Homo sapiens: one gene and its partners. The protein of the gene in region 3 purifies or fractionates together with the protein of the main gene of each other region. This does not show direct contact. Each region holds a gene or a part of one and is shown on either strand. Other genes may lie near its edges.

Evidence for each region.
Region 1: the proteins of ENDOV (region 3) and TSC22D3 purify together in Homo sapiens (affinity purification with mass spectrometry; 2 studies listed by BioGRID and IntAct, with this or other methods). This does not show direct contact.
Region 2: the proteins of ENDOV (region 3) and APAF1 purify together in Homo sapiens (affinity purification with mass spectrometry; 3 studies listed by BioGRID and IntAct, with this or other methods). This does not show direct contact.

The regions. Positions count from the first base shown.
Region 1 is NC_000023.11:107,769,070-107,772,819, forward strand, and holds part of TSC22D3 (TSC22 domain family protein 3), read right to left. Parts: intron 1-3,750. UniProt on the Homo sapiens protein: Protects T-cells from IL2 deprivation-induced apoptosis through the inhibition of FOXO3A transcriptional activity that leads to the down-regulation of the pro-apoptotic factor BCL2L11.
Region 2 is NC_000012.12:98,676,273-98,680,022, reverse strand, and holds part of APAF1 (apoptotic protease-activating factor 1), read right to left. Parts: intron 2,599-3,750; coding exon 2,472-2,598; intron 1-2,471. UniProt on the Homo sapiens protein: Oligomeric Apaf-1 mediates the cytochrome c-dependent autocatalytic activation of pro-caspase-9 (Apaf-3), leading to the activation of caspase-3 and apoptosis. This activation requires ATP. Isoform 6 is less effective in inducing apoptosis.
Region 3 is NC_000017.11:80,432,128-80,435,877, reverse strand, and holds part of ENDOV (endonuclease V), read right to left. Parts: intron 1-3,750.

The DNA of each region.
Region 1 (3,750 bases), on a different chromosome or scaffold from region 3:
CGTATGTGTTGACTACGAGCAGTAGACCACAAAATTGTGTTGAAAAGTAGGTGCTGGGCAATGCCACTCCTAGGTATATACCCCAAAGAATTAAAAGCAGGGACTTGAACAGATACTTGTACACCAGTGTTCATAGCAGCATTCTTCATAATAGCCAAAAGAGGGCAACAACCTAAGTGTCCACTGACAGATGAATGGATAAGCAAAAGAGGTATATCCATACAATGGAATTTTATTCAGCCATAAAAAGAATGAAGTACTGATATGTGCTACAACATGGATGAACTTTAAAACATGTTGAGTGAAAGAAATCAGACACAAAATATTGTATGATTCAATTTATATGAAATATCTAAATAGGCAAATCCATAGAGACAGAAAGTAGAATAGAGGTTACCAGGGGGTAGTGGGAGGGGAAAATAGGGAAACGGTGAGTTATTCTTTAATGGGTACAGAGTTTTTGTTTGGGATGATGACAAAATTTTGGGAATGATAATGGTTGCACAACATTGTTAATATACCTAATGCTACTGAATCGTACACTTAGAAATGGTTAAAATGGCAAATTTTATATCTATTTTACCACTATATATATATATGTACTATGTACAATATATGCATATAATACATCTCTCTCTTTCTCTTTCACACACACACACACACACACACACACACACTAGTAGATGTGGGGTAGGGCACCAGGCTCACTCATTGGTGAAAGGACCGGCCCCCACCTACTAGTCTCCTTGCACATGTGATTCACATCTGTGCCTCAGCAAAAACACAGTTTCTTACCAGTCTGAGTTCTCATGAAGTATCCAAACCATGAATGTTAAGTTTGCAAATGCATTTGTGCTTTTAATGGAGAAGGTCCCTTAATCCAAGAATGCCTATTCTTTGTCAGACCACTAGGCACTCAGGAAATAGTTATTTTAAATTACTTTGGGCTATGAAAGGACTTTTGAAGCTTGATACCAAAAGCAAAAATCACAAAGGCAAAGAATGACAGGCTTAACCACACAGAAACCCAAAACCGCTCTACAGCGAGTAACTCCATCCTCAAAATCAAATGGTAAATTAGTTGACAATGCGTTGCAATCTCTAATACAGGGTTTCTCACAGTGTGGTCTACATACCAGCGGTGCTCTGGGAGAGGAATTTTAGATGGTACATGGACAGAGAACTGAATCTTAAATAGTATGAACTTAGGCACTGCAGCAGGCAGCCACTCAAATCATGCCGTGTGAGTGGCCACCACCTCAGAAGCCAGGTCCAGGAATATACATTATGAAATTACTTGTTCTGAGACTCACTTAGAGAAGCACAAATAATTTTTTGCACAAATTTTTCTTGAAAACCTGATCTCTGAATCTATATCCTTCCCCTTTGTTACTATATTAATAGGGGATATTAAATGAATTAGCACACATAAAGCAATTAGAAATGTTTGCTATTTTTATCATTTTCTGAGCATTTATATATGGGAACCAGTTGGGGCCAGGTCAGAAGCTTAAAGGTAGAATCCTAGGGTTTTTAGAGCTGGAAGGGAAATCGGATTCAGAGTATTTCAGACCACACTAGCCAGGTACGCTCTGGGGTCAAAGGTAGAATAGAGCTGATTAAGAGGTTTTGGGTAAAATCTTAGAAAAAAATTTGAGGTTACAGCAACAGCAATCACAACGAATACTGTCAAAGCTCCTGTTACAGGTTGTTATACCTTACAGGTCAGAAAAATTAAGGAAGGCTCTTCAAATGTCAACTTGGGAAGCTTTTTCATATGCTACATTTAAATTGGAAACTTCTGCTGTTTGCCCAGAATATTCTATCTCCCTCCTAAGTTTTCCAGTATTAGAAGCATATTCAAATGACAAGGGGGAAGTCCCCTAACAACAGGGTGACCAACCATCCCAGTTTCCCTAGGACTGTTCCAGTTTGAGCACAGGCAGTCCTATGTCACAGGACTGGGATGGTTGGTTTCCCTACCTAATAAGGACATTTTGACCATTTGGAAAGGTTCTGAGCTCACATTTACCTCTGCTTCATAGACAATTCTTAAGTGTTACAAGAATTTCTTTAGCATTAGTTTAGTTACTGAGTGTTCTTAACAATTCTTTCTTCATAGACAATTCAGGCTCTGCTCTTCATTGTGAGGCATTGGGCAAGATACTTAATTTTTTCCAAGCCTCAATTTCCTTCTTTATAAAATGAAAATGGATGATAATAGTACCCATTTGGTCGGGCGCAGTGGCTCATGCCTGTAATCCCAGCACCTTGGGAGGCCGAGGCTGGTGGATCATTTGAGATCAGGAGATCGAGACCAGCCTGACTAATATGGTGAAACCCCATCTCTACGAAAAATACAAAAATTAGCCGAGTGTGGTGGCGTGCGCCTGTAGTCCCAGCTACTGAGGAGGCTGAGACAGGGGAATTGCTTGAACCCAGGAGGTGGAGACTGCAGTGAGCTGAGATCGTGCCACTGCACTCCAGCCTGGGCGACAGAACAAGACTCCGTCTCAAAATAAATAAATAAATAAACAAATAAATAAATAAATCCATTCCAAAGAGTTGATGTAAATATTAAATTAGATTATGCAGGTACATTGTGAATGTTCAAGAAGTGTTAGTTATTAATCTGTTATGGTTATTAGTTACATAATACAAGATTGAAAGGATGGTGTTTAAAATACACTTCTTCCCCAACCCAATTGTTTACAGGTACCATTTACATACCAACAGGCTGCATGCCCATTCTCACTGATTCGTATGTATATACACAGCACTATCAGGACTTCCATCAGGCTATGAGAGTTACTGCATGTGGTTAAAACGGAAGGAAAACAACTTTTAAACATTAATAAGGATTTTCTAGCACAGTATAAAGTTGTAAAATCTTTACAAGGGACCACGTCAATATTTAAGTAGTCATCCAACTGAAGAAACCTTTATTGAATATTGGCTGTATAACTAAAAGCCAAGGGAAAACCAAGCAAGTAAAACACAGCCCTACCCTCAAATTGCTTATACTCTTGTGTTCCAAGGAAACCAAGAACGAAGCTGGGAGCCAGGGACAGGTCAAAGCAGACAAACCAGATGTAAATCAAGAATGTGCCCTGCTCTTCTTCCTAAAAATATAGGAGCCCTCTTGGCAAAGGAATGGACTGCAGGAGGAGGGGTGGGAGACTAGCTTCTCCAGCAGGAGAGGCCTTGAAAGTTGACAAAGGAAAAAAGCACCCAACAGGAACCTGAAATGTCAAATCATTAAATTGAATAGAAGTAAAAACGATGGCTGAAGTATGATGATAGAAACCCAGGGAATTTAATGAAGTAACAAGGGATATGTTCACTTAGGAGAAGGCTGTCTACCCCAGATATTGGAGAAGCCCCATGACCAGCAATAATGGTCTTCTAGTTTGCTAATGAGCATGTCATACTGGGCAAAACCTAAACCGAATTCAGAATCCCCAGTCTCTAAGGTCCCAATTGTCAAGGAAAACAAGAGGGGATCAGTGGCTCATGCCTGTGATCCTGGCACTTTGGGAGGCTGAGGTGGGCAGGTCGCTTAAGCCCAGGAGTTTGAGACCAGCCTGCACAACATGGCAAGATCCCGTCCCTATAAAAAAAAAATACAAAAATTAGCTGGGCATGGTGGTGTGTGCCTGTAGTCCCAGCTACTTGGGAGGCTGAAGTGGGAGGATCGATGGAGCCCAGGAGTTTGAGGCTGCAGTGAGCTGTGATCATGCAACTGCACTC
Region 2 (3,750 bases), on a different chromosome or scaffold from region 3:
AGAAACTTCTGTGGCCGGTGGCGCCTTTGCCCAAGTTTTGCTTGGGCCCACTGGTCTTGTTTCACCCACTTGGCCTGACAGGCTGCATTCAGCTCACACTACCAGCCTGGGTCCCAAGCCTGCCAAGGGCGAGTCAGGCGTGGAACAGCGAGGCGTGTGTGAGTGAGCGTGGGGTCCAGCCACTGCGCACAGACGTGCTGACTGCTGCAGCGGGGCAGGCAGCTCCAGGTGCCAGCATGGGCTCTGGCTCTCTGTGAGGCTGTGGCTGGACCAGGCACACCACAAGCAGCTTACACGCTGGCACCGGGGAACACGGTGGTGCCCAGAAGCTTGGAGATGCCAGGAACCGCGGGGCCCCAAAGAGGGAGTCACAGCCCTAGCTTGGGGAGCTCCCAAGTCTGGGCTCCCCGAAGGGCCGCAGCTTTTCTTTACTTATCTTCACTTGCAATGCGGCAAGCAAGGGGCATGTCTCAGCCCTGTTTGTGTTACAGCTCTTTTAGCCTCACCATTCAGTGGGATCCCAAGTTCTTGTCCTACAACCAGGAAGAATGTGGTACGCTGACAGGTGGAAGGTGAGCAAGACAAACAGGAGCTTTATTGAGCGATAAAATAGCTCAATAAACCTGCGGGGGGCAGCTCCTTTCCACAGCTCAGGAGAGGGTAGCTCCTCTCTGCTAGGCAAGTCCTCCTGACAAGTGTTCAGCTATCAGCAGAGAGGGTAGCTCCTCTCTGCAGCTGGTCCTCCTGTCATCTGCACAGCTCTCAGCAAAGAGGGGGCACTAGAGTGGGTTGCTCCTCTCTGCAGCTGGTTGTCCCAGTGTCTGCTCAGCACTGGCTAAGCCCGAGGCTTTTATGGGCTTCAGAAGGGAGGAAGTACATGCCAACTGGTCCATGGGCAGACATGGGCAAGCCTGGAAAAGGCACTATAAGTTCCCACTCCAGTCCATTCAGTCCACACCAGCAGCCCAGCCCCCAGTCTTCAGGCCCTTTGTGGCCTGAAGGTGGGGCCTCATTGGTGACCCGCCCCCTTCCACCCAGGAACCTGTCTGCCTCCTGCTGCCATGAATGGCACCCAGGCTGTAGGTGCCAAGGGGAGCCTGCAGGCCAGTATCAAACTGCCCTCAGCACCCCCTTGGCTTCCCTCCTATGCTCATCAGCACCCAAAGTCCGGAGGGGGCCGAGGCGGCAGGGGGCTGGCATGTCAGCACTGCCCCAAGCATGTGCACATCTGGCCGGGCTGCAACAGCACCCAGGCTCAGCCCCAGCTTTGCTCTAAGATCAGAGTGGGTGCCAACAGTAGGGAGAAGTCAGGCAGCGGGAGCAGGCACTTCCAAGCCTACAAGGGCAGGGGGTCCTTCCAGGTCCCCCAAGAGTACAGGGATGCCTGAGTCTGCAGCCACCGCTTGGGCAGCTACAGCTGCACCAGGGGGAAGGGGTCCTGCCTGCTCTGTGGAGCCGGAGGCCCGAGCCTGCAGCTGTGGTTTGGGCGGCTACAGCTACACCCAGGAGGGCAGGGCTCTGGCCTGCTCCATGGAGCGGGTTCCCAGGTCCACAGCTGTGGCTTGGGCGGCTACAGCAGGAACCAGGAGCTCCTGCCCCAATTCAGAAGGGGTAGGGTTCCTGCTTGTCCCCAGCTACCGCCAGCTCCACAGAGCATGCAGCCCCAGCTGCGCCTCCCTGCTGCAGCCAGCATGATGGCAGCAGCCACTCCAGGCAGCCCGCCGCTGCCATCAAAAAGAAGTGTCAGAGCACAGCTTCAGCTCTTGAGACTATTTTGGCAAATTCTTAACAATCAAATAAAACATTTCATTTAATATGCATTCTCTCTGGAACTCAAAAGCCAAGATTAATAAAATTAGTAATAAAGTACACATATAGACATAAGCTATGGAGTCATAATCTTGCAAAGACTAAAAGTATCCTAAATACAAGTTTTAACTAATTTCATCATGTTCTCTGCAAAATCAAAAGGCAGAACACAAACATAAAGAAAAGTACTCATTAATATTTTCTGAAAACAAAGGGAATCTTAAAGGAAATTCTTTAAAACAACTTAGGAAATAGTCTAGTCCAGTTCCTATTTACAAGAAAAAAACCTATGCCTAAGACTTTGATAAAATAGGTATTTTCCTAATCACTGTTTTTTAATCACAGCCCTATTCCCTGTGCTATGAAGCCCTACGTCTTCTAACAATTATTTCCTCACTACCCTTAGCTGACAAATGGATGGCTGGGAACTGACTGGCAGGGTAAAGGGCACTTCCTTACCACCTGTAAGTTTAGAATTAGGAAAACATGTAACTGTATCTTTTAAATCTCTAGAGAAACCTTTAATAAAATGTTCAAGAGAGCTGGATTCCTCTGTTATTTCTAAGTTGCAATTTTCTTGAATTTTAGGATTTAAACATATTCTGATCTGCACAAAACTGGATACATGCCTCTTTGCATTTTTCTCAAGAGATGTGTTTTACCTGTAAGGTTTTATCAGCTCCACAAGAAGCTATTCTCTGACCATCCTCAGAAAAGCAGGCATGGTAAACAGCATCTGTGTGGGGGCGGACAACTAAGCGGGAAAGATTCGTGATGTTTTTTTTGTTTCTAAATACAGGGAAAAAATGAACAGAAATTAAATAAATGAGAGTAAAAGTAACTATTTTCTTTCAGTACTAAAATAAACTGTCTTTTAACATGGTTATGTTCCCCAAAATACAAAATTCTTAAAATCAGATTACTAACATGCAAATGACAGCACAGATCACCAAAAGAAAAAAAATAACAAAAGTAGCATTTGTAAGAGAAATGTTACCCTTTATCAAGCAACCTGTCACGTGTTACAAATGTCACTGAGTTGGAAGAAATCTAATTAATCAAATTAATCAAATCTAGTTAATCAACATGTCACTTTCCATTTTCCTTTGATACATTAATAATGATACATGTGCAGATAAATCATTATATAAGGATACCTTCAAAAATTCTCCATCTCTTTTTTAAAATAAAAATCATAGCAAAATGCTCATTTCCTAACTGAAGGAAACACCCACCATTATTATGATGTACTTTAAAGCTGCTCTTCTCAGCCAGGCGCAGTGGCTCATGCCTGTAATCCTAGCACTTTGGGAGGCCAAGGTGGGTGGATCACCTGAGGTCAGGAGTTCAAGACCAGCCTGGCCAACATGGCGAAACACCGTCTCTACTAAAGATAAAAATTAGCTGGGTGTGGTGGCACGTGCCTGTAATCCCAGCTACTTGGGAGGCTGAGGCAGGAGAATCGCTTGAACCTGGGAGATGGAGGTTGCAGTGAGCCAAGATCGCGCCACTGCACTCCAGCCTGGGCGACAGAGCAAGACTCCATTTCAAAAAAAAAAAAAACTGCTTCTCTCAAACTACAATTATTCAGACATACCAAAAAGATAAAGCAACATCATATTCTTTGTATCTCAATCTAATGAATATCAACTATTCCACCAGTATAGATATTATATTACTGCTCATAGTATCTAAAGTATAAAGGGGCCAGGCATGGTGGTTCACACCTGTAATCCCAGGACTTTGGGAGGACGAGGCGGGCAGATCACTTGAGGTCAGGAGTTCGAGATGAGCTTGGCCAACATGGTGAAACCCCATCTCTACTAAAAATACAAAAATTAGCAGGCATGGTGGCACACACCTGTAATCCTAGCTACTCGGGAGGCTGAGGCATGAGAATCGCTTGAACCCTGGAGGTGGAGGTTGCAGTGAGCCAAGATC
Region 3 (3,750 bases):
TTGGGAGGCTGAGGCAGGTGGATCACGAGGTCAGGAGATCGAGACCATCCTGGCTAACACGGTGAAACCCCGTCTCTACTGAAAAAAAAAAAAAAATTAGCTGGGCGTGGTGGCGGGCGCCTGTAGTCCCAGCTACTCAGGAGGCTGAGGCAGGAGAATGGCGTGAACCCGGGAGGCGGAGCTTGCAGTGAGCCGAGATCACGCCACCGCACACCAGCCTGGGCGACACAGCGAGACTCTGTCTCAAAAAAAAAAATTAGCCAGGCATGGTGGCACATGCTTGTAGTCCCAGCTACTCTGGAGGCTGAGCCAGGAGGATTGCTTGAGCCCAAGAGGTCGAGGCTGCAGTGAGCCATGATCACACCCCTGCACTCCAGTCTTGGCAACAGAGCGAGACCCTGTCTCAACAACAAAGCAAAATGGTCTGGGACAACTGGCTACTCACAGGTATGACATGGGACCTGCTCCCTTACACCATACACAAATTTAAGTCAAAATGGATCAAAGACTTAAAGGTAAGAAGCACTAAAACTATACATTTCTTAGAAGGAAATGTAGGTGTAAATTTTCATGGCCTTGAATTAGTCAATGGCTTCTTAAATCTAACATCAAAAGCATAAGCAACAAAATAGATGGACTTCATCAAATTTAAAAACTTTCATGCATCAAAGGACACTAACAAGAAAATAATGACAACCCACAGGAAAAAATATTTGTAAACTAAAGAAGTGATCAATATCTAGGATTCAGAACATATAAAGAACTTCTGCAACTCAACAAGATGACAACCCAATTTTTAAAATGGGCAAAGGATTTGAATAGATGCTTTGCTCACGAGGATATACAAATGGTTACTAGACATGAGAAGGCGCTCACCACCATTAGCCATCAGGAAATGCAAATCAAATGCACAATGAAATACCACTTTTTTTTTGAGGCAGGGTCTCATTGTCACCCAGGCTGGAATGCAGTGGCACAATCACGGTTCACTGCAACCTCAACCTCCTGGGCTTAAGTGATCCTCCCACCTCAACCTCCCGAGTAGCTGTGATTATAGGAGTGCATCACCATGCCTGGTTAATTTTTTAGTTTTCTGTAGAGATGAGGTCTCACTATGTTGCCCAGGCTGGTCTCAAACTCCTGGGCTCAAGTGATCCTCCTGTCACAGCCTTCCAAAGTGCTGGGATTACAGGCATGAACCACTCACTGTGCCCAGCCGAAACACCAGTTTCTACTCCAAGGAATGGCTAGAATCTAAGCGGCAGATAATAGCAAGTGGTGGTGAGGGTGTGCAGAACCTGGAACCCTTGGGCATTGCTGGTGGGGATGTGAACTGATGTAGCTGCTATGGAAAAGTCTGGCAGTTTCTCAGAAAGTTAAACACAGGGTCACCACATGACCCAGAAATTCTACTCCTAGGTATATATACCCAAGGCAACTGAAAACATGTTTACACAAAAGCGTGTACATCAGTCTTCATTGCAGCATTATTCACAAAAGCCCTGAATGGAAAAAACCCAAATATCCACCAGGATTAACAAAATGTTTATACTGATCCATATGATGGAATATGACTCAGCCATAAAGAAGAATGAGGTCCTGACACCTGGCACGACACAGGTGCATCTTGAAAACATTATGCCAAGAGAAGGAAGCCAGACAGAAAAGACTACACGGTGATTCCACGCCTGCATGGCGCCCACAGCAGGCCTGTCCAGAGACACACGGTGATTCCACGTCGGCATGGTGCCCACAACAGGCCTGTCCAGAGACAGGAAGCCCTTGCTGGGTGCCAGGGTCTGGGGAAGGGAGAACGGGGAGTGACTACTAATGGATATGGGGTTTCCCTTTGGGGTAAAAAACCGTTCTGGAACTAAACAGTAATGATGGTTGCACATGATTGTGAATATACCAAAAGTCAATGAGTTGTAGTGGAAATGATGACTTTTATCTCAAAACAAACATAAACTACTCACGTAAAAATTGTCTGCAAACTTATCTCCAGGCTCTGGCCTGCTCCTTCTTGCAAGGGGAGGGGAAAATGAAGGACCCCCTGACCAGGTCCTGGCCAGGCCCTCAGCTGGGGAGGCCCACCTGACACCCATGGTCCTTGAGGAACCAACGGTTTTAAGCAGAGCCTGACCTCCAGCCCCAGAGGAGCCCAGAGCCATCTCTGCCCCCCTCACAGAGGTGGGTCATTGGGGTTGAAGCTACTGCTCTTTGTGCAAAGCCTACCACATGCCAGGCAGTTGTGGGCATTTCTTCTGAGTCTCCCGGCCCCCTGGGAAGCTCCCCTGTTGGAGTGAAGCCCCAGGGCGCAGGAGGTGTGGTCCTGTCTGGCTCCAGAGGAAGGGGGCAGCCAGGCCTCCCTTCGAGGACCTGAGTTCTGATGGCTTGGGATGGCGTGAGGAGCTGCCAGCTCAGGTGGGAGCCTGGTAGATGAGACCTCCCTGACCTGGCTTCATCCTCTCATCACTGGGGTTGGCACAGCATGGCGGACTGACGGCCTTGTGGGCCTCACCTCTCCAAACCAACAGCCTTCCCTCACCAAGGACTCACCATGTGCCAAGGCTCCCTGCTGAGCCCTTACACACTTCACCTGGTGGAATATCCCCCACCACATGGGCAGGTACTGACCCCTGTGGGATGCGTTTTGAGCTTTGCTCAAGGCCAGCCTGGAAGAGACAGTGGGATCTCAGCCAGCTCTGCCCAGCTTCCACACTGTGCTTCTAATGCCTCTAATTCCCTGCCACCTGTGCTCCCGGAGCTCTGGACAGGGAAAGCTCTAGAAGTCAGGAGGGCATTCTGTGGGAATGCCAGTGAGTGTGGAGAGGGGAGAGGCATTTGTTTGGGGCAGGGGGTGCTGAGCCTCCCAAGGGTCCTACTGGCTTGGGGCACACACATGGCATCCTGGACACCAGGCTCTGGGTGTGTCTGGGGTGGTGGAGCCCTTTGACTCAGGAGGTAGGTGGAATGAGGCACCAGCTGGGTGCCATGTTTCCCTTTCCCACGAGTGCCCTCGGGGAGGTGGAATGGGAGCGAGCAGAAACCTGGGTACTGCTGGGCCACCTGCAGTCAGCAGCTCCCCTGCCTAGACCCCCACACGCCCCCATGACTCCATCTCCCACGACTCTGCTTGAGGCAAGGTCCCCCATCGCCAGCATTGGCTCTGTCCACTCCCTGCCTGAGGAGCCCTGTTCTTCCAAGGACCATGCAATGGTCTCACCTATGCCTCAGTGGGCCTGGGGGCCAGCATGAGGGGTCCCCAGAGCGGTGCCTAAGCCCCGGACTCACGGGCAATGACACGGGACCTCTGCCTCCCTGTCCCCCAACCTGGACGGCATGCCCCAGGACAACGGCTGTGCTCGGTTGGTGTTACTGCCGGGAGAGCCCAGCCCAGCCTGCTTGTGCTGGTGACATTCAGAGGTTTCAGGGGAACACCTCTGGAGGCTGTCCACGGCCCTGCTCTCCCTCCCATCCAGACAGGACTCCACAGGGGTGCTGGGAGGCAGATCCTTGCCAAAGATGCTAGGTGGGCAGACGCCCTTCCCTCCGACCACTGATGCCTCATTCCTGGGCCCAGCCAGGTGCTGGACTCCACCACCCCATGCCCCATTTATTAGGAGTGTACCGAGTGTCCACCGCTGGGCAAGAGACCTATGTGTATCCCCACCTTTAACCCCCAAAGCTTCTGAAGCAGGTGTTCATGTTCCCGGTGAGGAAACAGGTTCCAGGTGGACACGGCTGCAG